Homo sapiens: one gene and its partners. The protein of the gene in region 1 purifies or fractionates together with the protein of each later gene. This does not show direct contact. Each region holds a gene or a part of one and is shown in the gene's direction. Other genes may lie near its edges.

Evidence for each region.
Region 2: the proteins of ZNF264 (region 1) and ZYG11A purify together in Homo sapiens (affinity purification with mass spectrometry; 2 studies listed by BioGRID and IntAct, with this or other methods). This does not show direct contact.
Region 3: the proteins of ZNF264 (region 1) and SORL1 purify together in Homo sapiens (affinity purification with mass spectrometry; 2 studies listed by BioGRID and IntAct, with this or other methods). This does not show direct contact.

Annotation. Positions count from the first base shown.
Region 1 is NC_000019.10:57,201,482-57,208,504, forward strand, and holds part of ZNF264 (zinc finger protein 264), read left to right. Parts: intron 1-3,915; coding exon 3,916-4,011; intron 4,012-7,023. UniProt on the Homo sapiens protein: May be involved in transcriptional regulation.
Region 2 is NC_000001.11:52,837,813-52,845,779, forward strand, and holds the start of ZYG11A (protein zyg-11 homolog A), read left to right. Parts: upstream 1-4,947; 5' UTR 4,948-5,071; coding exon 5,072-5,161; intron 5,162-7,967. UniProt on the Homo sapiens protein: Probably acts as a target recruitment subunit in an E3 ubiquitin ligase complex ZYGA-CUL2-elongin BC.
Region 3 is NC_000011.10:121,602,311-121,609,333, forward strand, and holds part of SORL1 (sortilin-related receptor preproprotein), read left to right. Parts: intron 1-1,882; coding exon 1,883-2,014; intron 2,015-2,802; coding exon 2,803-2,929; intron 2,930-3,091; coding exon 3,092-3,261; intron 3,262-4,534; coding exon 4,535-4,647; intron 4,648-4,875; coding exon 4,876-4,980; intron 4,981-5,793; coding exon 5,794-5,866; intron 5,867-7,023. UniProt on the Homo sapiens protein: Sorting receptor that directs several proteins to their correct location within the cell. Along with AP-1 complex, involved Golgi apparatus - endosome sorting.

The DNA of each region.
Region 1 (7,023 bases):
TGGTTGATTGGACTTGTATCCCAACACAATCCATCAGAGGAAGTCTCTACTCACTACCTTTTGTGAGGAGCCTCAGCCTTGTATATTACCCCGTAAACCAACCCAGAAACTAGGTGTGTTTATGTTGGAAAAGTAGACTAAGGAGATCAGTCTGTCCCAGAACGGTGCCAGCTGGGGAATTACTGCCCTTGCGTATCTAGACTGTGGCATCTTTAAACACTGGAAGGATCTGAGGAGCACTCCTTTAGGATTCCTACAGCACTTTAGGCCAGAAACCCATGGCAGCAAATGCCAGACGCAGCTGAAGCACAAGGCTGCCAGCATCTCGCAGCCTTCCCCGGGCAGAACTTTCTGTGTGGTACAATCCCTTAGTGAGCTGATCTTCAGCCTTCCCATGAGCGCAGAGTCAGCCTGCTGGGTGCACCAGTTGTATTAATTTGTATCTATGGGCCAAGTGTGGTAGCTCATGCCTGTAGTCCCAGCAGTATGGGAGGCAAGAGGGTTGCTTGAGCCCAGGAGTTTGAGACCAGCCTGAGCAATAAAGTGAGACCCAGCCTCTACAAAAAAAATCAAAAAAATTATCTGGGCGTGGTGGCACATGCCTGTAGTCCCAGCTACTCCTAAGGCTGAGATAGGGAAGATTGCCTGAGCCTGGGAGGTAGAGGCTGCAGTGAGCCATGATCACACCACTGCACTCCAGCCTGGGCGACAGAGTGAGACCCTGTCTCAAAAAAAAGCAAATTTGTACCCATGGGATTTTAATTTATAGCAGTGACTTAGTGATGACACAGAGAGGTTAATAACATTGAAAGAAGAATTCATTATTTACAATTCGTGAAAGAAGAGGGCATATGCTGGGCCTCATGGGGATACAGCTGGAAGCACAGGGGAGGAGAAAGCCTTTAACTGGGTGTGGTATTCTGATACATACTGGTTTTTGTCCACCGTTCCTGATTCATAACCCCTATAGCCCTTTTGTTAAAATGCTGGGTATGTTAGGCCTCAGGGTCAGGCCTCTGACCTCCTGCCCTCCTTTCGCTCTAACGTTCCTCCACCTTTCTGACTGTGGGTCTCATGAGTGGGTCCAACCCTATACCCTGGGAAAGGAATGTTGATGTTTTGAAGCTTCCATAAAGACTCCAAGAGGTCACAGTTGAGTGAGCTTCCAGGTGGTCCCCCCAGGAAGGGCATGGAAGCTCTGTGCCCCTTCCGCCACACCTTGCCCTAGGAGTCTCTTCATCTGTATCCTTTGCAATATTCTTTATAATACACTGGTAAACATGAGTGTTTCCTTGAGTTCCGTGAGCTGCTCCAGCAAATTAGTTGAACCCAAAGAGGGGGTCGCGGGAACCCCAACTCAAAGCCCATTAGTCAGACATTTTGGAGGCCTGGACTTGTGACTGGAGTGCAGGGTGGGGCAGTCTTGTGGACTCAGCCCTCAACCTGTGGGATCCGAAGCTATCCCTGCGTGGATAGTATGGGAACAGAATTAGAGGACACCCCCCACTGGTGTCTGCTGCTTGGAGTTTGGGGAAAACCCCCCACACATTTGGTCATAGAAGTCTTGTTCTGTATTGTCATGGTGTGAGAGTAGAGAAAAAACATGATTAGAGAGAGTTTTCCCTGCGTATTGGGTTTCTTCTGGAAAAGCAAGACAGGGCATGGTAAACAGTTTAGAGCTGGCTAGTTTGAGTAATTTCAGTGAGGTTTGGGGCATAGGGACTATCTCTAGTTGTCTGGCACTTGGCCCTGGGTTGATTTAGGGCAGGGGAAATACTGGCTTGGTATGTGAGAGTTTGTTAAAGAAGTGGTTGGGGGTATGGTTTGGGGTTAGGTGGATTGCACATGAAAGGCATGTGCTTGTTCCCAGGGGAGTTTATTATCCTAGAAATTACCTGTCCCTGAGAGGAGCAGTCTCTCCCAAAGTCTGAAAAGGCTTCAAGATGTTCTGAGCAACGTCAAGAAAATATGACTACTGTATTTTCATCTGACATGAACCTAAACTTACTCGGTTTAGAAGATAAACCTTCATCTATGAAGCTGTCCTTTGAGGGTTTTTTGTTGTTCTTGTTGTTGTTTTTTGTTTTTTAAAGTAGAAGTCCTCTTTTTATGAAATGTTGGTGAGAGTAGATACTATTTGATGTTTCTGTAAATGTCCTTATTTAACTCTATCACAGTAGAACGTTCAGTTTTTTAAATTTTTAATGGTTCATGAAATGCAGAGGTCTGGAATCACTGAACCTGCCCCTCCCCCTGGCTGCTGGTCCCTGAGGATGACCTCCAGCTCACATCTCTGCATCGTCATCACTACCCACCACCCACTCTGTGGTGCTAGTAATTTCCTCCTTAGTGTGGTGTTTGGAAGGGGAGCCCGAACCCTGGTGTCCAGCCCCAGCTCTGCTCTTTAAAAACTGTGTGGCCATGGCCAGGCGCGGTTGCTTACGCCTGTAATCCCAGCACTTTGGGAGGCCGAGGTGAGCAGATCATGAGGTCAGGAGATCGAGACCATCCTGGCTAACACAGTGAAACCCTGTCTCTACTGAAAATCCAAAAAAATTAGCCAGGTGTGGTGGCAGGCGCCTGTAGTCCCAGCTCCTCGGGAGGCTGAGGCAGGAGAATGGTGTGAACCCGGGCTGAGGCAGGAGAATGGCGTGAACCCGGGAGGCGGAGCTTGCAGTGAGCCGAGTTCACACGCCACTGCACTCCAGCCTGGGCGACAGAGCGAGACTCCGTCTCAAAAAAAAAAAAAAAAAACTGTGTGGCCTTGGTCAAATGACTGACCTTGTCTGTTCCTCAGTGTTCTCATTGGTGAGATGAGGATTTACCACATCTGCATCCCAGGGTTGTTACTGGGGTAAAGGGTTATTGATAGGGTTTGGCTCTGTGTCCCCACCCATATCTCACCTTGAATTGTAATAATCCCCATGTGTCGTGGGAGGTAATTGAATCATGGGGACGGGTTTTTCCCATGGTGTTGTCGTGATAGCACATAAGTCTCATGAGATCCGATGGTTTTATAAAGGGGGGTTCCCCTACGCATGCCCTCTTGCCTGCTGCCATGTAAGATGTGCCTTTCTCCGCCTTGTGTCATGATTGTGAGGCCTCCCTAGCCATGTGAAACTGAGTCCCTTAAACCTCTTTCTCTTTATAAATTACCCAGTCTCGGATATGTCTTTATTAGCAGCGTGAGAACAGACTAATAAAGTTATTACGTGAAAAGGGCTCAAAACAGCACCTGGGAGACCACGCTGTGTGCAGGGAGCCATTGCAATCCTGTTGCCATCAGTACTGTTATTGTCATCCTCATCAAGATCACTGTCGTTGGCATACCTGGACCCGGGACTTTCTGGGTAGCGTTGTGGAGCTTTGTGGTTAAACAGCACCGACAGCAGAGATGGCAGGACCTGGGCCTTACTGACTCAGCCATTCACCAGTTCTGTGCTCTTCAGCAAATCACTTTACTTCCTGATCCTGGGTTTCTTTGTCAATAAAATGGTGTTGATCACGATGTGGACTTCCTGGGGATGCTGTGAGAAAATCCTCAGCTGGAATCCTCATTTTTTCTTTAGTCTAGAGGAAGAGCATTATAAAACATTGCTTAGGATGTAAAAAAAATAAGACTTAGATCAATGAAATCACATACCTTGTTTGGAATGAAAAGAGTCAATATTTAATATTTAAATACATCAGTTTTTCTCTAAGATACTCTATCAGTATTCACTTTTGGAATTACATAATGCATTTATGTAATTATGGAAACCTTGGTTTCCAGGTCACATGCCAGCTTTTCATTCCCATGCACAGGAGCAGCTTCACTCCAAGGTCTGGTCTCCATCCTGAAGTCCCAAACTAGATTGAAGGTCTTTATTTCTTTTCACCCACATCCATGTGTCCACTTGCTTTCTCCATAAACAGGGTGTCCTGTTCCCAAAGCTGAGCTGATCTGCCACCTAGAGCATGGGCAGGAGCCATGGACCAGGAAGGAAGACCTCTCCCAAGACACCTGTCCAGGTAGGAGCCAAGATCTGGGCAGGTTGGAGTCCCTTCTGGCTTAAGACTGGATGGAGACCACTGGCCCTGGAATCTCTTGGGAAGCTTCTCATTGTGGCCTCTCTCTATATAACTCTTATATAACTCTATCACACTAGAATGTTCCATTTGAGAGCCATGGAGCCCTTTGACCTGTGTTTTCTCTGTCCTCCTAGCCCCATCACAGTGTCACCATGCCTGGGAAGAAGTGAGATTTAAGAACTAAGATGTGTTCAGGGGTTCCAACTGTGTGGGCCTGAAATGTGGCTTGCCAGTCACCTGCTGTGTGGCCCTGATGAAGTTGCAGGATCTCCTGTCTTTGTATATAACTTCAGCTAAGTTAACAGTAGCTGCTGTATCAGACAGATTCTAAAATCTCAGTGGTTCACATATGAAAACTCTTTCCCACTCATACCAGGGACTGTGTGGGTCAGCGAGGAGCTCTGTACGACACAGTTATTCAGGACCCAGGTTCCTTCTGTCATCAGCCTGTTGCATTAAGATTATCCTAACGTCCTCGAGCTGGCAGAGAATTGAGGGAATAAGGGAAGTTAAACCCACTTCCAGAAATACCAACTCCCCTCACATTCCACCCACAGGAACTAGGCATTTGGCTTGGGTCCATGGGACTGGGAAATGTGGCTGAGCTGCTTGTCCAAGGAGAAGAGCAGAAGGTTTGGTGAGCACCTACTCTCAGTCCACTACATTGAGTCTGTTCCTGAAAAGTGTTATTAGAAATCTTTTTTTTTTTGAGACGGAGTCTCGCTCTGTCACCCAGGCTGGAGTGCAGTGGCACAGTCTCGGCTCACTGCAAGCTCCGCCTCCCGGGTTCACGCCATTCTCCTGCCTCAGCCTCCCGAGTAGCTGGGACTACAGGCGCCCGCCACCACGCCCAGCTAATTTTTTTTTTTTTGTATTTTTAGTAGAGACGGGGTTTCACCGTGGTCTCGATCTCCTGACCTCGTGATCCACCCGCCTCGGCCTCCCAAAGTGCTGGGATTACAAGCGTGAGTCACCGCGCCTGGCCTAGAAATCATTTTTATGTCATTGGGCAGTTTAAAGATGTTATGTGATACATTAATGCATAAAACTGGATAGTTTCTGAGCCATAGTAAGTGACTCATCCGAATGTCATTATTAACCTTAAAGAGTGATGCTATGTTACATTTCCTTCTGAACTCTAGGGAATAGGGCCTTTCTTACTCTCCCAATTTCTCTTTCCACTTATATTCTGCCTATCAGCCTCTCCCACCTTCTCCTTCCACCCATTCCCTGAGTGTCAATCAGACACTAAGAAGCAGTAGTTTGCCCATGTCTTCCTATATCTCCTGTTTTCCAAAAACCTCAGGGTGACATTTGACCTTCTGTGTCCCACACTCAGGCTGCTGAGGGCACTGAGGCCATCTGTCATGTGTGTGGATTGGTGCCACTGCAGAGCCTTGGCCTCTGCCCGCGTGGGTTCCTTGAGCTGCTCATCCAACCCTGAGTGTCTGTGCAGTCCCTGTTCAGCCCTTCAGAGTCTGTTCCAGATTGTCCCCTCCTCAGTGCCACATCTGCACTTGAAAATCTCAAAAGCACAAAACTCAACATGCCTAACAAGGAACCCATGATCTTGCTCACTCCTGCCACCTCCCAAGTTTCTGTGAATGGTTCTGCCATCCAGGCAGATTAGGGGACTGGCCCCAACCTCAGACAAGTCAACCCCTCCACCTCCATGAGTCCCTGCATCCAGCCAAGTAGACAGTTTTTGTCTCCAGGCACAGATGTCTCAGCATGTGAGTGCTGATGTGTTAGCAGGCTTTCAGGTTGAAAAGAAAGTCTCCTGTCTTGTATTGCTTGATCAGCAGCCCTTACATGTTCATCTCAACTTCTCTTTTCCTTACTGGAAGAGGTCTTGCCCCAGTCATGGCCAATTCCTATACCAGGGTCTAGAACACACTTCCTTTCATGGACATCCTTTCTTCATTTATATTCTGCTTGTTTTGTGATTCTCTACTCAACCTAAAAATATGCTTGTTTCTTCTTTTTTCTTTTCTTTTTTTTTTTTTTTTTTTTTAGAGTCTCTCTGTGTAGCCCAGGCTGGAGTGCAGTGGTGCTATCTTGGCTCACTGCAGTCTCTGTGCCTCAGCCTCCCAAGTAGCTGGGATTACAGGTGCATGCCATTACACCCGGCTAATTTTTGTGGGTTTTTTTGTTTGCTCGCTTGTTTGTTTTTTGTTTTGTTTTGTTTTTTGAGATGGAGTTTTGCTGTTGTTGCCCAGGCGGGAGTACAATGGCGCAATCTCGGCTTACTGCAACCTCCGCCTCCCAGGTTCAAGCGATTCTCCTGCCTCAGCCTCCCGAATAGCTGGGATTATAGGTGCATGCCACCACGCCCGGCTTTTTTTGTATTTTTAATAAAAATGGGGTTTCACCATGTTGGCCAGGCTGGTCTCGAACTCCTGACCTCAGGTGATCCACCCGCCTTGGCCTTCCAAAGTGCTGGGATTACAGGTGTGAGCCACTGCGCCTGGCCATATTTTTAGTAGAGACAGGGTTTCACTGTTGTTGCCCAGGCTGGTCTGAAACCCCTGGCCTCAAGCAGTCCATCTGCTTCGGCCTCCCAAAGTGCAGGGATTACAGGCGTAAGCCACTATGCCCAGCCTCGAGTTTCTTACAATTGAAGAAAATAAAACAAATGCTTGTGGCTCATGATATATTTATATATTCATTGATACATTCATTTACTATGTGGGCATTTAATTGTCTAGATTTGGCTGGCACAGTGGCTCACACCATAATCCCAGCACTTTGGGATGCTGAGGTGGGAGGATTACTTGAGCTCAGGAGTTTGAGACCGGCCTGGGAAACATGGTGAGACCCCGTCTCTGCAAAATTAAAAAAATTAGCTGGGCATGGTGGCTCATGCCTGTGGTCCCAGCTATTCAGGAGGCTGAGGTGGGAGGATCTCTTGAGCCCAGGAGGTCGAGGCTGAAGTGATCTTATTCATGCCAC
Region 2 (7,967 bases), on another chromosome or scaffold:
CCTGAGGTCGGGAGTTCAAGACCAGCCTGACCAACATGGAGAAACCCTGTCTCTACTAAAAATACAAAATTAGCCGGGCGTGGTGGCACATGCCTGTAATCCCAGCTATTCTGGAGGCTGAGACAGGAGAATCATTTGAACCCAGGAGGCGGAGGCTGCAGTGAGCCGAGATCATGCCACTGCACTCTAGCATGGGCAACAAAAGTGAGACTCAGTCTCAAGAAAAAAAAAAAGGATGTGGCGGGGGTGGGGGGTGTCTCATTATGTTGCCCAGGCTGGCATCGAAATCCTGGACTCAAGCACTCCTCCCACCTTGGCCTGCCAATGGGATTAATTACAAGCTTGAGCCACTGCACCCAGCCCAAACCTACACACTATCTTGCCATTGGATTTCCTACTCTGTGGAAAACATGCAGCTTTGTTTTTGTTTTTTGTCCTTTTTTTCCTCCTTTTTGTGGGAATGGGGTCTCGCCATATTGCCCAGGCAGGTCTCGTACTCCTGGGTTCAAGCTATTCCCCTGTCTCTGTCGCCCTAAGGACTGGGATTACAGGCGTGAGCCACTGCGCCTGGCAACTTGCTGCTTTGTATAATCTCAGTAGAAGGGCCGGGCGCAGTGGCTCAAGCTGTAATCCCAGCACTTTGGGAGGCCGAGGCGGGCGGATCACAAGGTCAGGAGATCGAGACCATCCTGGCTAACACGGTGAAACCCCGTCTCTACTAAAAATACAAGAAGTTAGCCAGGCGTGGTGGTGGGCGCCTGTAGTCCCAGCTACTTGGGAGGCTGAGGCAGGAGAACAGCATGAACCTGGGAGGCAGAGCTTGCAGTGAGCCGAGATTGCACCACTGCACTCCAGCCTGGGTGACAGAGTGAGACCCCATCTCAAAAAAAAAATAAAAAAATAAAAAATAATCTCAGTAGAATATGAGGAAAAAAGGATAGCCAGAAGCCCTCCAAAACTGATTCATGAAATAAAACACATAATTGATTTTTTTTTCTTAAACACAGAGTATCAAAAGACACAGGACAGGGTGCCCAGATCGACTGTTCTGTGCTCCAAATAATAACAATGATAATTTCATTTTTTAAATTTATTGTTATTTATTTTTTATTTTTGTCTGAGATGGAGTCTTGCTCTGTTGCCTAGGCTGGAATGCAATGGCGCAATCTGGGCTCACTGCAACCTCTGCCTCCCATGTTTAAACGATTCTCCCGCCTCAGCCTCCCGAGTAGCTGGGATTACGGGCATCTGCCACCAAGCCCGGCTAATTTTGTATTTTTACTAGAGATGGAGTTTCATCATGTTGGCCAGGCTGGTTTTGAACTCCTGACCTCAGGTGATCCACCCACCTCAGCCTCCCGAAGTGCAGGGATTACAGGCATGAGCCACTGCGCCCAGCCGATTTTATTTATTTATTTTTTTTGAGACACAGTTTCCTTTTTGTCACCCAAGCTGGAGTGCAATGGCACAATCTCGGCTCACTGCAATCTCCACCTCCCAGGTTCAAGTTATTCTCTTGCTTTAGCCTCCCAAGTAGCTGGGATTACAGGCGCCTGCCACCCCGCTTGGCTAATTTTTGTATTTTTAGTAGAGAGAGAGTTTCATCATGTTGGTCAGGCTGGTCTCGAACTCCTGACCTCAAGTGATCCATCCACCTCGGCCTCCCACAGTGCCGGGATTACAGGAGTGAGCCACCACGCCTGGCCAATAACAATAATTTTAAAAGCAAAACCGCTCTGTAGGTTATTTGCCCACAAGCAGCACTTGGCTCCTGGCCTTAAAAATGCCAGGAGAAGACTGACAATCAGGCCACCGCTTTGTGCCCATGACAGAAACGGCAAAGCCTATTTTTTTTTTTTTTTTTTTTTTTGAGACGGAGTCTCACTCTGTCGCCCAGGCTGGAGTGCAGTGGCGGGATCTCGGCTCACTGCAAGCTCCGCCTCCCGGGTTCACGCCATTCTCCTGCCTCAGCCTCCCAAGTAGCTGGGACTACAGGCGCCCGCCACTACGCCCGGCTAATTTTTTGTATTTTTAGTAGAGACGGGGTTTCACCGTTTTAGCCGGGATGGTCTCGATCTCCTGACCTCGTGATCCGCCCGCCTCGGCCTCCCAAAGTGCTGGGATTACAGGCGTGAGCCACCGCGCCCGGCCCTATTTTTTTATTTTTATTTATTTTTTAAGAAAGAGAGTCTCACTCTGTCGCCAGGCTGGAGTGCAGTGGCGTCATCTCGGCTCACTGCAACTTCCGCCTCCTGCGTTCAAGGAATTCTCCTGCCTCAGCCTCCCGAGCAGCTGGGACTACAGGCGCACACCACCATGCCCAGCTAATTTTTGTGTTTTTAGTAGAAACGGGGTTTCTCCATGTTGGTCAGGCTGGTCTCAAACCCCGACTTCAGGTGATTCACTTGCCTTGGCCTCCCAAAATGTTGGGATTACGGTGTGAGCCACTGCACCCAGCCACTTTTATTTACTTATTTTTACTTTTTGCAACAAAGTCTCGCTTTGTCACCGGGGCTGGAGTGCAATGGCGCAATCTAAATTTACTGCAACCTCTGCCTCCTGGGTTCAAGCAAATCTGGCTCAGCCTCCCAAGTAGCTGGGATTACAGGGATGCGCCACCATGCCCAGGTAATTTTTTTGTGTATTTTTAGTAGAGATTGGGTTTCACTATGTTGGCCAGGCTGGTCTTGAACTCCTGACTTCAGGCGATCCACCCATCTCGGCCTCCCATAGTGCTGGGATTACAGGCATGAGCCACCGTGCCTGGCCTCATGTGTTACGTTTTAAATTAATTGGTTTAATAATAAGAGCTTAAATAAAATATTTTGTCAGAAAAGTGAAAAACATAATGCCTTTTATTTAGTTCATGTGACTTGGGTAATCTTTGGGAAATAAAGATGGGTTTAAAGATTATTGATAAAATACAAATGTCTTCAAAATGTAAACATGTGGTCAAAATTATGTTCAAATATTAGGTTTGCTAAATGCTTTAAGGTCATAAACTGCTTCCTTGGCTTTTGAAAATTGTTTAACTTGCCTGTTTTCTAGCTCGGTAAGGCCTGGGACATATGCAGTTGGCCACACCTCTAGATATGCTGGAAATAGTCAAACCTTATGAGAACATAACTTACCAGGTTCTATATTAAAGTTAAAATTGCTGAAATTCACACTTCAGCTGTAATAGGAAATATCCTCTCCATTGGGCAAAAGCCGAGGAAATGACTGTAACTTTCCTTCATCCTCGTCATTTACATAGGGCATACCCCAAGTAGAGGGTATTTAAACTCCCAAAAATTCTGTAACGGGGTCTTTGAGCCCCAGTGCTCGGGCCCACTCCCACATTGTGGCATTGTGGAGTGTACTTTCATTTTCAATAAATCCCTTCATTCCTTCCTTGTTTGTGCGTTTTGTCCAATTCTTTGTTCAAGACACCAAGAACATGAACACCCTCCACCGTTAACAAAAGCATATTGGCGGGGGCACGGTGGCTCACGCCTGTAATCCCAACATTTTGAGACGCCGAGGCGTGCGGATCACCAGGTCAGGAGATCTAGACCATCCTGGCCAACATGGTGAAACGCTGTCTCTACTAAAAATACAAAAATTAGCCGGGTGTGGTGGCGCGCGCCTGGAGTCCCAGCTGCTTGGGAGGCTGAGGCAGGAGAATCACTTGAACCCAGGAGGCGGAGGTTGCTGTGAGCTGAGATCGCGTCACTGCACTCCAGCCTGGGCAACAGAGCGAGACTCCGTCTAAAAAAAAAAAAAAAAAAAAAGCATATTGATTGGACTTGCAGTAAGAAAACTCAATTTTGACTCCCAGGTTGGCCACTCATCAGCTGGCCAAAAAACGTGTTGTCTATTCAACCTGTCAGTTCTTCAGTTTCCCTGTGAGAAAAATGGGGATGATACCTACAGCACAGGATTTTTTTTCTTCTTGTAGTAAGTGGATTAAATAAAAGAATAAATAAATGAAAGAAAAGCATTAGGCAAAGTACTTAAAAATAATTTTAACATCTGAATCCAATCCACTTATCAAGGACTTACTATGTAAAAAGCATTGTGATGTGTTTTACATACATTATTTAATCCTTACATTAAGTCTGTGAGATAAAGCATTCTCATTCTATTTTACTGATGAGGAAGTTGAGCTTCAGAGACATCAAGAATCTTGCTCCAGGTTCTCAAACACTAGATGGCTGAGCGGGCATTCTAATTCAGGATTCAAACTCCAAGGCTCATGCTCTTGAGAACTTTCCTTTTCCAAGGTATTGCTTTCTCTTAAATTAGCTAATGTGTACTAACTTGTGGAGTTTCTTTCCTGGAGAAAGTTAGAAGGGTCTCTCGGGGTTTCTTTCTTGGAGCAGGTTATAAGGGTCTTCTCGAGTACTTTTTAAGTAACAAGAAAGCTAAATAGATTTTTTGGTAGATACTTGCCAATATTTTGTATTCGTTTTATATTTGATTTATCCAGATACTCTAAGGAGTTGAAACAGAGAGGACCGTTAGAGAGGTGCTGTTGCCAGATTTTCAGGGGCAAAGTCTTTGAAATATATATTTTAATGTATGAAAGCTTTAAAAAATATATACATATATAGAAATAATGAATATGTGTGTGTGTGTGTGTGTGTGTGTGTGTGTGTGTGTGTGTACATGTATATATATATACAGTATTCCCCAAACCTACACAGCCGGTCCTCGGGGAATATCCTCTCAAGCCCTGAGGTGCAGGGCTGGGAAGGAGTGGGTGAGCGGCTGGGTCGTGGCAGGTTGGTCTGGGGAGGCTGGGGAGGCTGGGGAGGCGGGAGGAGAACGGTTGGCCCCGGCAGCGGCGTGTCGGAGGGCGGATGGGGCTAGGAGGCCGCCCGGGGGGTGGGGTCTGCGGCGGGCCGGCCCCCGCGTGCGCGTCGCCTCGCCGGGCATTTCAAAAGCTCGCCGGCAGGGCGCGGCGCTAGCTCCGTGTGCCTCGCAGGCGTGGTGGGCGCGTCCTGGCAGCCGCCCGCTTGGTTCTCGCGGGATCCGGGCTCCGGCTCGACGCCGGCTCTCTTTTTGACGCCCCGCCGCCGGGGTTGCCATGGTTCATTTCTTGCACCCGGGCCACACGCCCCGGAACATCGTCCCTCCTGACGCTCAGAAGGATGCCCTGGGCTGCTGCGTGGTACAGGTGAGCACCGGGGTGCGGGCGGCGACGCGGACCTCGGCGCCACGTCCAGCTCCGGCGAGCGCGGCGAGTCTCCTGGGACGCTGCCGAGGCACTTGCTGGGGAGTGTGGCCCGCGCGGGGCTGCGGTCTAGATGCCGAGCCCCTTCCAGGCGCAGGCGTCGCTGCGGAGGTGCGTTGTCGGGGGAGGCGGCCTGGGCGCCGCGGAGCGGGGGGTGCTTTTCTGCGCCCGGCGAAGCGCGTGGAACTTGCGCCCTGAGGCAGCGCGGCGAGAGCCCAGTCCCAGAGACCGGGGCGAGCCTCCTCAGGATTCCTCGCCCCAGTGCGGGCTGCTGTGAGCTTAGACGTAGGTGCAGGGCATGGCACTCGGCTTGGCCCGTAGTGGACGGTGTTTTTGCAGTCATGAACCCAAACGCCGCAAACCTTGACCGTTTCCCCACCCGTGTTGTGGACGCAGCGCCCCGCGGAGGCGGTGACCCTTTGGCCGTTACCACCTGAGGCCTTTGGGCCCGGGGCCGGGCGAGTAGCTTAGTCCGGCTGGGGGAACTGGAACCCGAAGTCTGAGATTCTTTCAGTTCCGCGCGTCCGCCCCCGTCCCCGTCCCGTCCCCAGCCTTTGCCGAATGCCTGTTACTCTTAGCTCTGGACAAAATGCAAACCCAAAGAATGTGTGTTTAGCGCCTGCTGTGTGTTAAGTGTCGCCTTTCTTTTCTTTCTTTCTTTTTTTTTTTTTTTTTGAGACGGAGTCTCGCTCTGTCACCAGGCTGGAGTGCAGTGGCGCGATCTGGGCCCACTGCAACCTCCGCCTCCGGGGTTCAAGCGATTCTTCTGCCTCAGCCTCCCGAGTAGGTGGGACTACAGGCGCGTGCCACCATGCCCGACTCATTTTTTGTATTTTTAGTAGAGACGGGGTTTCACCATGTTGGCCAGGATGGTTTCGAACTCCAGACCTCGTGATCTACCCGCCTCGGCCTCCCAGAGTGCTGGGATTACAGGCGTCAGCCACCGTGCCCGGCCAAGTGTCGCCTTTCTAAAGCAGTCTGGTAACCCCTAGTCTTTTGTAGGCTTTGCTAGGCTCCATTTTACCGATGTAGGGAAGTTGGGAGCTCTGAAATTTAGTTGACTTGCTCGTGAACTTGAATTTCACCTCAGGTGTTCAGACCTCTGGCCCCACTTTGGAAAAAACCCGCCAAGGGCCACCCTTGGGGAACTCGAGGGATTGAGTGGTGAAGGCTCGACCCAAAATTTATGGAGAGAAGGAAATGTTCTGATTAAGGTTGTGCTTTACATATTAACGCCTTGTTGGAAGACTTTGTGCCCTGCAGTGATCTAGCCTGTAATCTTTTGAACTCATTTAGAAAAGTTATATAATTTGTGGATTTGTAATTAATGGAAAACTTGGATTTTTTACGTGTGTGCTAGCATCGTCTCAAGCACATTTTTTCCTGCTTGGAATCGAAACAAGATTTCTTTACAAAAGTACTCACACCCATTTTCTCTGTCTAGTTCTGGGTATATCTCATTTTCTTTGTTAAGGATTTTATTTATTTTTAATTAATTATTTTAATTACACAAATATTGCATGAATACTTTTTTCCCTATGAAACATACATACAATTATTTCCATTTATGTCATTTTAATCTTCTCTTAGCAATGTTTTGTAGTTTTTAATATAAAAGTCTTTTCACATTTTGTTAAATTTGTTCCTGTTCTTGATACTATTGTAAATACTTTTTTTTTTTGAGACGGAGTCTCCCAAAGTGCTGGGATTACAGGCATGAGCCACCGTGCCCGGCCAGCAAATATTTTTTAAAACTTTATATTACCTTGTGTATATATAAGAATACATAAAATTGATTTTTGTATATTGATCTTGTATCCTACAGCCTGGCCAAAGTCACTTAGTTTTCTTTATTTTTTTGTAAATTTTTAAAGATTTTCTACACAGTCATATTATTTTCTTTTTATCCTTTTAATTTTTTATTTTTAATTAAGACGGTGGTTTCCCTATTGTCCAGGCTGGTCTTTGAACTCCGGCTCAAGCAATCCTCTTGCCTTGGCCTCCCATATCTTTTCAATTTTTTGCTTCATGAATTTTGAAGCTATTAGTAAGTTCGTATGCATTTAGGAATGTTAATTCTGCTTGATGAATTGGCCCTTTTATCATTAAGAAATGTCCATCTTGATCTCTAGCAATATTCTTGTCCAGAAGCCTCATTTTTTCTGACAGTGTAGTCACTCCAGTTTCCTTGTGTCTAGTGTTTAACAACTGTATGTTTTAAATTGTGTCTCTTGTAAACAGCAATCTTGCATTTGTATGTAGCCTAATGGTCTGTGCTTTTTTTTTTTTTTTTGAGACGGAGCCTTGCTCTGTCACTCAGGCTGGAGTACAGTGGTACAATCTTGACTCACTGCAACCTCCGCCTCCCGGGTTCAAGCGATTCTCTCGCCTCAGCCTCCTGAGTAGCTGGGACTACAAGTGTGTGCCACCATTTCCTGGCTAATTTTTGTATTTTTGTAGAGACAGGTATTTTTGTAGAGGCGGGGTTTCACCATGTTGCCCAGGCTGGTCCTGAACTCCTGGCCTCAAGCGACCTGCCCATCTTGACCACCCAAAGTGCTGGGATTACAGGCGTGAACCACTGCACCCAGCCTTTATTTTTGAATTTTTTTTTTTTTTTTTTTACAGAGGACAGGAAAGTAAACATTTTAATTTTTTTAATTAAAAATGTATTTTTTAAATTGATTTTTGCAGGGAGGAGAGAGTCTCACTCTGTTGCCCAGGTTTGAGTGCAGTCTGTGATCATAGC
Region 3 (7,023 bases), on another chromosome or scaffold:
CAATTTTTTATCAGGATTGTTTTTGAATAAGTAGTGAACTGAAGTCTGTACCTCCATCCTAGAGACTCGTGCAAAGAAGTCTTAATTCTTCTTTCTCATGAAAACTCATCAGTGGAGAACACTTGTCAGAGTGGTCTGCATGTCTTCTCACCACCTCCCCCATCCTTGTATCTTTTCACCTCTAGGAAAATATCCCTGGATCCTTTATCCATTCCTCTTGACCATCCTGGTTGCTCTCATGGGAACATTATCCAGTTTCTCTACCTATATCTCAAAGTGTGGTTGTTTATGTTAGGAGGAAGGAGAAGAGGGAGGGGGTCGAGGTCAAGAGGTGACCCATGACCACATGCCTGGGTCTGAAGTGGGGCGTATGAAGCTTCCTTGCTCAGGTCACAATGCTCATATCACCTTTAACATAACTTTGTTACTTGTGTGTACACTCTCTTTATTTCCTCAGGGCTTAGTTTCAGGAAGGGACTATTATCATCCTTGCTTTAAAATTAAACTATAAACAAAATTCCTTCCATAGTTAGCTTGGCCTACGTGCAGAGATAGGCAGAGGCCGTTAACCTACAAGATGTCACCATGGGCAGGGGGCAGGGTGCGGGGAGCAGAATGGAGCCACTCATGTTCAGCCTCCTTTTGTCTGTTATAATTTCCCCATTTTCAAAGCCAGTGATGTTGCATGTCTCTCACCTGTCTTCTGTATTCTCTCTGTCTCTCACCACAACCAGAAAAGGGTCTCTGCTTTTAAGGACCCATGTCATTAGACAGAGCCCACCTGGATAATCCAGGCTGAACTCTCCTACCTATGGGTCCTTAATCTAATCACACCTGCAAAGTTGCTTTGTTACATAAGGTAACATATTACAGGTTCCAGGGATTAGGATGTGGACGTCTTTGACTTGGAGGAGCAAGATTGATTTTAGACCCTCATCACTGGTGGGATTGGATTTCTGATGTAGCCCTTCCTTGTCCAGGACTGGGCAGGCAGGTGTGAATCTGTATAAGGAAGGCCTCAAGTTACTGTTCCTGGGCTCAACCAGCTACATAGCAGATTTGTACCACCCAGGTACACAGCCTGCATAGCAGATTTGCTGTCTACAGCCATTCTCACCTTTTCTCTTTTCAGGAGCATTTGCAATTATACGGTCATTGCTTTCTTTTTGGAGCCTCCCGTGCAGTTTTAATCTACTTTCAGAACTGGAGAGCACATCACATTTTGGTCAATAGCCTAGACATACAGTTGCATAACCCTTAACTTACCAGTGCTCATTATTTGCATTATTTCATTTTCTGTTCAAGTACTTTGAAAAGCCAAACAACTTTAAATACTACATAAAGTATGCATGCCTCTTAATATTGTTGGGATTCATCTCATTGTTATTTCTGTTACTCAAACCAGAAATCAGCTCCTCTTTCTAGATTGCAAACTAATAATAGTAGCAGAATAATTAATAGTACTATAGAGTAATAGCTACAGTTTGTTGATGCCGGCCAGGAGCCAGGCAGTGTTCCAGGTGTGTGATCTCATTAGATCCTTGCAGACATGATAGTGATGGAATTGTTACTTCCATTTTTTATAGGGCAACTGAACTCAGGTGATATTAAGCTGTTTGCTCAAGCTCATGCAGATCTAGGATTTAAACTCTAGTTTGTTTGACTCCAAAGTGCTCACTCTTCCCGAATGCAGATTCCAGTTGTTAATGTTAGATGAGATGGCACCTTAGTGCCGGTATAGATTCCACCACTGGTCATTCCAGAGGTGTGTTTTGAAGCAGAAGCCAATTAGTACTTTGCCTAAATGGGAATAAACTTGGGCCCAGCCTTTAGTACCATACGGCCCCTCCCCGTGGACTTAAGAAGCCTCTCTGTGTTTCAGCCACACACAGCACCTTGACTTGCATGAGCAGGGAGTTCCAGTGCGAGGACGGGGAGGCCTGCATTGTGCTCTCGGAGCGCTGCGACGGCTTCCTGGACTGCTCGGACGAGAGCGATGAAAAGGCCTGCAGTGGTGAGTGCCGGTCCACGGGCTGGGCTGGGCTGGGCTGGGCTGGGAGGCTCGCTTACCCCAGGGCCCCTCCTGTGTAGACCTTGAGCTAGGACCCTTTTGAACTGTTGCTCAATCTAAGGATAAAACAGATTTGTGCCTAGTTTTGGAGCCCCAAGTGAGGTGAGCCTTGGCCAGACTCTGATACAACATGCAGCTGTCTCCTCCCTGTTAGTGAAATGCTAGTCTTGGATTTTTTTTTTTTTATGGACTTCCCACCTCATGCCCATACACCATGGCTCTCACAGTCTCAATCTGCTGGTGGGATTAACTCAGTTCTTATCTCTGGAGTGTCTAGTAATGGACCCTATGACATGGTCCTTGGACTTGTAGCATTCTCTATGGAGAAATAGGCTTAAATTGTCATAGGCAGGAGGAAGATGAAATTCGAGGGAAAATATCACGACCGGAAAAGTAGGAGACCCTAGGAGGGATTGTATAGGGAGGTTTCAACTACATTTTCTGAGATTTCTTTTCAGATAATGATTATGGCCTCCTGATAATCTAGATCATGGTAGTTCTGTTTAAAAGCAGGAGTCCTTTGAAATCTAAGGATTTGTAAGATGTAACTTTTTTTTTTTTGTATTTTTAGTAGAGACGGGGTTTAGCCACATTGCCCAGGCCAGTCTCGAACTCCTGAGCTCAGGCAATTTGCCCGCCTCGGCCTCCCAAAGTGCTAGGATTACAGGCGTGAGCCACCACGCCCAGCCAAGATGTAACTTTGTTTGTCTTTTTCTCCTTTATCTCTCTAGATGAGTTGACTGTGTACAAAGTACAGAATCTTCAGTGGACAGCTGACTTCTCTGGGGATGTGACTTTGACCTGGATGAGGCCCAAAAAAATGCCCTCTGCTTCTTGTGTATATAATGTCTACTACAGGTAGGTCCCATCTTTGTCATGGGAGATGAAAATGATGTCTTCATTGCCCCAGGATGTTCTGTAAACTCTCTAGTGGCATGCACCATGCTATTAACGGAGTCAGACATCTCAGCCCCCCATGCTGCTCCAGTGTGACAATATCTTTATTTTTTTTTGGGCCAGGGTGGTTGGAGAGAGCATATGGAAGACTCTGGAGACCCACAGCAATAAGACAAACACTGTATTAAAAGTCTTGAAACCAGATACCACGTATCAGGTTAAAGTACAGGTTCAGTGTCTCAGCAAGGCACACAACACCAATGACTTTGTGACCCTGAGGACCCCAGAGGGATGTAAGTGTTTCAGTTAATTTTTATGGCATGGGTAAGACCTCAGGTCGGGGTTTGTGAGGGTCTTTCTGAGTATTCTCAGGAATGTGGGAACATATGTGTGCCTCACATGTACAGAAGTATGGTGGCTAAGCTTTATAGTCTTGCCAGAGTTGTCAAACATCTGTTCTTCTTACTGCATCAGAGACTGTTCTTGTACCTTAAGTTAATTTAAGATTCTCTCCACCATTGCCCTCTTGCATTTTTTGTCTAGTTTCTACCTCTACGTTCCTCCTCTAGATATTTCCTAGTACTTGGTACTTAGGAGGAGGTCATCGTCATTAAAATATGAGGCATATCAGCAATTTTGTGGCTAAGTTTTTTTCTTTTTGGAGACAAGGTCTCACTCTGACACCCACACTGGAGTGCAGTGGAGGCGCAATCACTGCTCACCACCTCAGTCTTCCCAGGCTCAGGTGGTCCTCCCGCCTCAGCCTCTCGCATAGCTGAGACTATAGGTGTGTGCCACCATGCTCAGCTAGCTTTTTGTATTTTTGTACAGAAAGGGTTTTGCCGTGTTACCTAGGCTGGTCTTGAGCTACTGAGCTCAAGCAATCCACCTACTTCAGCCTCCCAAAATGTTGGGATTACAGGTGTGAGCCACTGCACCTGGCTTTGTGGCTAAGTTTTTAAGAAATTTACCAAATTTATGTGTCTAAGAGAGTTCCTCGCCTCCTCCCTACTTCAAAGTAGTTGACATGAGCAACTGTCTGCTTGAATGTCATCTTTTTTCATTGCCTAAAGTATCCTGAATATGCTAGCGCTAAACTCATTAAGGAGCCTGCTTTGAAGATGATCAAATTCATTTGGATATAGAAATTCTGTGATGTTACAAAATTAGTCTTATTTTTTGGTAGTCATGCCCACAGTACAGTTTTTGTTGTACAAGAAGCAGAGGCAGCAGGTGCTGTCATTGACAATTAAGATCTCAGCATGGAAGTCTCAGGGTCAGTGGTGACTCAGCCTGCCCAAGTGATTCTATCCTGCAGCCCTTATGAGCCACAAATTTACCACACACTCAACTGAGCCATGATGTGATGTGTGGACGGCACACCTTGCTTTTTGGAAGAAGAGGAAAAGTGTCTTTTCAATGTGACGACCAAGCTAGCAGCCTTTCTAGTGGATAGTCTCAATGCCGGCTGTGGAGTCGTTCTTGTCCTTGTTCTAAGCCCAGGAAAATTCCTCTGGTTGGCTGCTATGCAGATGGGTTTTAACCTTGAGTTGACTCTTTTTCTAGTGCCAGATGCCCCTCGAAATCTCCAGCTGTCACTCCCCAGGGAAGCAGAAGGTGTGATTGTAGGCCACTGGGCTCCTCCCATCCACACCCATGGCCTCATCCGTGAGTACATTGTAAGTACCTTCCATGAGTTGGCTGTATGTGTGTTGGGGGTGCTAGGAGATTTCTGGGTATTCTGTATGACGAGGGGGTTGATTTGGTTTAGCTTTGTAGGTGATGACCCATCCGTCAGAACATTTTGCTCCTCACCATCTTTTCTCTCCTCCAGCCTCCTTGCAAGATATTAGGATGCCCTGGACCTTTGGTTCCCTTTACTCACATTTTTTTTCTTCTCCCTTTAGGTAGAATACAGCAGGAGTGGTTCCAAGATGTGGGCCTCCCAGAGGGCTGCTAGTAACTTTACAGAAATCAAGAACTTATTGGTCAACACTCTATACACCGTCAGAGTGAGTGTCGTCATCCATTCCAGCCATCCATGCAGTCTTAGAACTGAGCGAAATTGCTGCTGTTTTGTGAGAACTCTCTACTCACCTTTGTGAGATGCATATTAGTAATCTGCAAAATACCCAACTTCTTGCCCTGGGACGGGGGAGCTCAGAGTTTCTTTCAGTCTCTTAAATGGACACCACAAAGAGCTTGACATCAGAGTTTCTGTAGATAACCGGGCGTTTATGGGAATGCCGCTTTCCCTGCTTTTAACTCCGGTATTCTGCTAGCTTTCCAGCTCCTATACTTTTGCAGTCAGCTCTTTCCTGCTTATCTTTAGCTGCAGGATGATGCAGAGCTATGATAAGTAGTCTTTCTAAACTGATTTTATGAGGTTCTTATGAAATATATTTTTAGTATTTTTAGCAGAAAGAGATAGATTTTGTGAACAACATGTTTGCTGAGACCATTAAGTGTGCACATTCATGACTCTCACACTGATAATTTTGTCAGTACCCTTTTTGTATATGTGTGTATTTATGAACACACCCCCCCATACACCTGCCCTTTAGAAGAACCTTGATATTTGTGGATCAATAGAAATTTTCTGATCTCAGGACTGTCATAATGCCCTTTACCCAAGCTCCTTCCCTTGGCTTTTTTGCCCTCTTATTTCAGATGCTGGGGCCTCTGAATATTCTGGATCACTCTGTATAAAATTTTTCCAGCCTCACTGCCAAAATCTCACCCCTTTAGCTCATTCAGTATTCTTACTGTATGGTGTATGGTGTATTGCCTTTATTTCATATTAATTCACCCTCTGATTTGAAAAGGTGGCTGCGGTGACTAGTCGTGGAATAGGAAACTGGAGCGATTCTAAATCCATTACCACCATAAAAGGAAAAGGTAAATGATCCCAGCATTTGCAGATTTAGAGAAAATATTATACAAACCCTTTCAAATGACTTTCAGTATGACCGGAAAATGGAGAAACGTAGTTTAGAAAAACATCACACAACTTTCTTCTCCCCAACACACGCACATTTTTGGGTGTCTCTGTAGTGCTTTAGATAGAGTCTTTTTGGGGTGACTGAGTGTCTTTTTCCTCCTAGTATTGAGCATTTCTTCTAATGCAGACATACAAAGGGATTTCCAAAGGCCATCATGCGCAGCCCTTTGTGAGTAGTCAAAATATCTAAAATAGAAGGAGTCCTTCCTTCTCACCAAAGCTGAAGATGATTTTGTGCATGTTCACTTACGGGGTTTTAAAGAAAGCACCATGCTGACTCTTGTTATTCTCCCAGTGGCACTGGCAAACTGTGTGTAGGTGGTTTTTTATCTTGTACTAGAGCTGATATTAGTAATAACTGATGGCTTGCCAAGGGCAGGACACTCTAGAGTGTTCACTGCTTTGCGTACATCAGCTCATCTAATTGAACAGTCAGAACAACTACAAGAAAGGATAAGGAACTGGAATGAGGTTATGTCACTTGTCCCAGGCCACACAATCAGTAAGTGACAGAGCTGGCCCTGGAACCTGATCTGCCTGACTCCAAAGCCTGTGCTCTTAACCACTGTGCTCCACGCTTCTCTCTGGGCTGAGACACATGCGGCCTACTGGACCGCCCTGCTTGCCGGGGGTGGCGGGCTCAGCATCTTGCACGAGTGCCTCATGAGGGCAGAGATCTGGTCTGTTTTTCTCTACTCTATCACGGGCATCTAGTAGAGACTAAGGAAATAATTGATGATTGAGTGAATCGAAGCAGTTAAATGAAGGGTTCTGGCATACTTTGGGAGATGGACTACAACTCATTTTCCAGAGTGGTTTTCCTGACCTTAGCCTTGACACTGGGGACTTGCATTTCTGGACTTCCAGGTATTAAAACCAGATGGACACTGTGGCATGCAATAGGACTGGAAGATTTTACTTTAACCTAAGCCTGTGAGGAATAGGCTCTGGGTCATGGAGAGTCACTATCTAGTCCCCTCTAAAATCTGGAGCCTTTGAGATCAGGGCCCAAGGCGGCCAAACGTAGTGCCACCAGATGGTCTTTGGAGCTGAA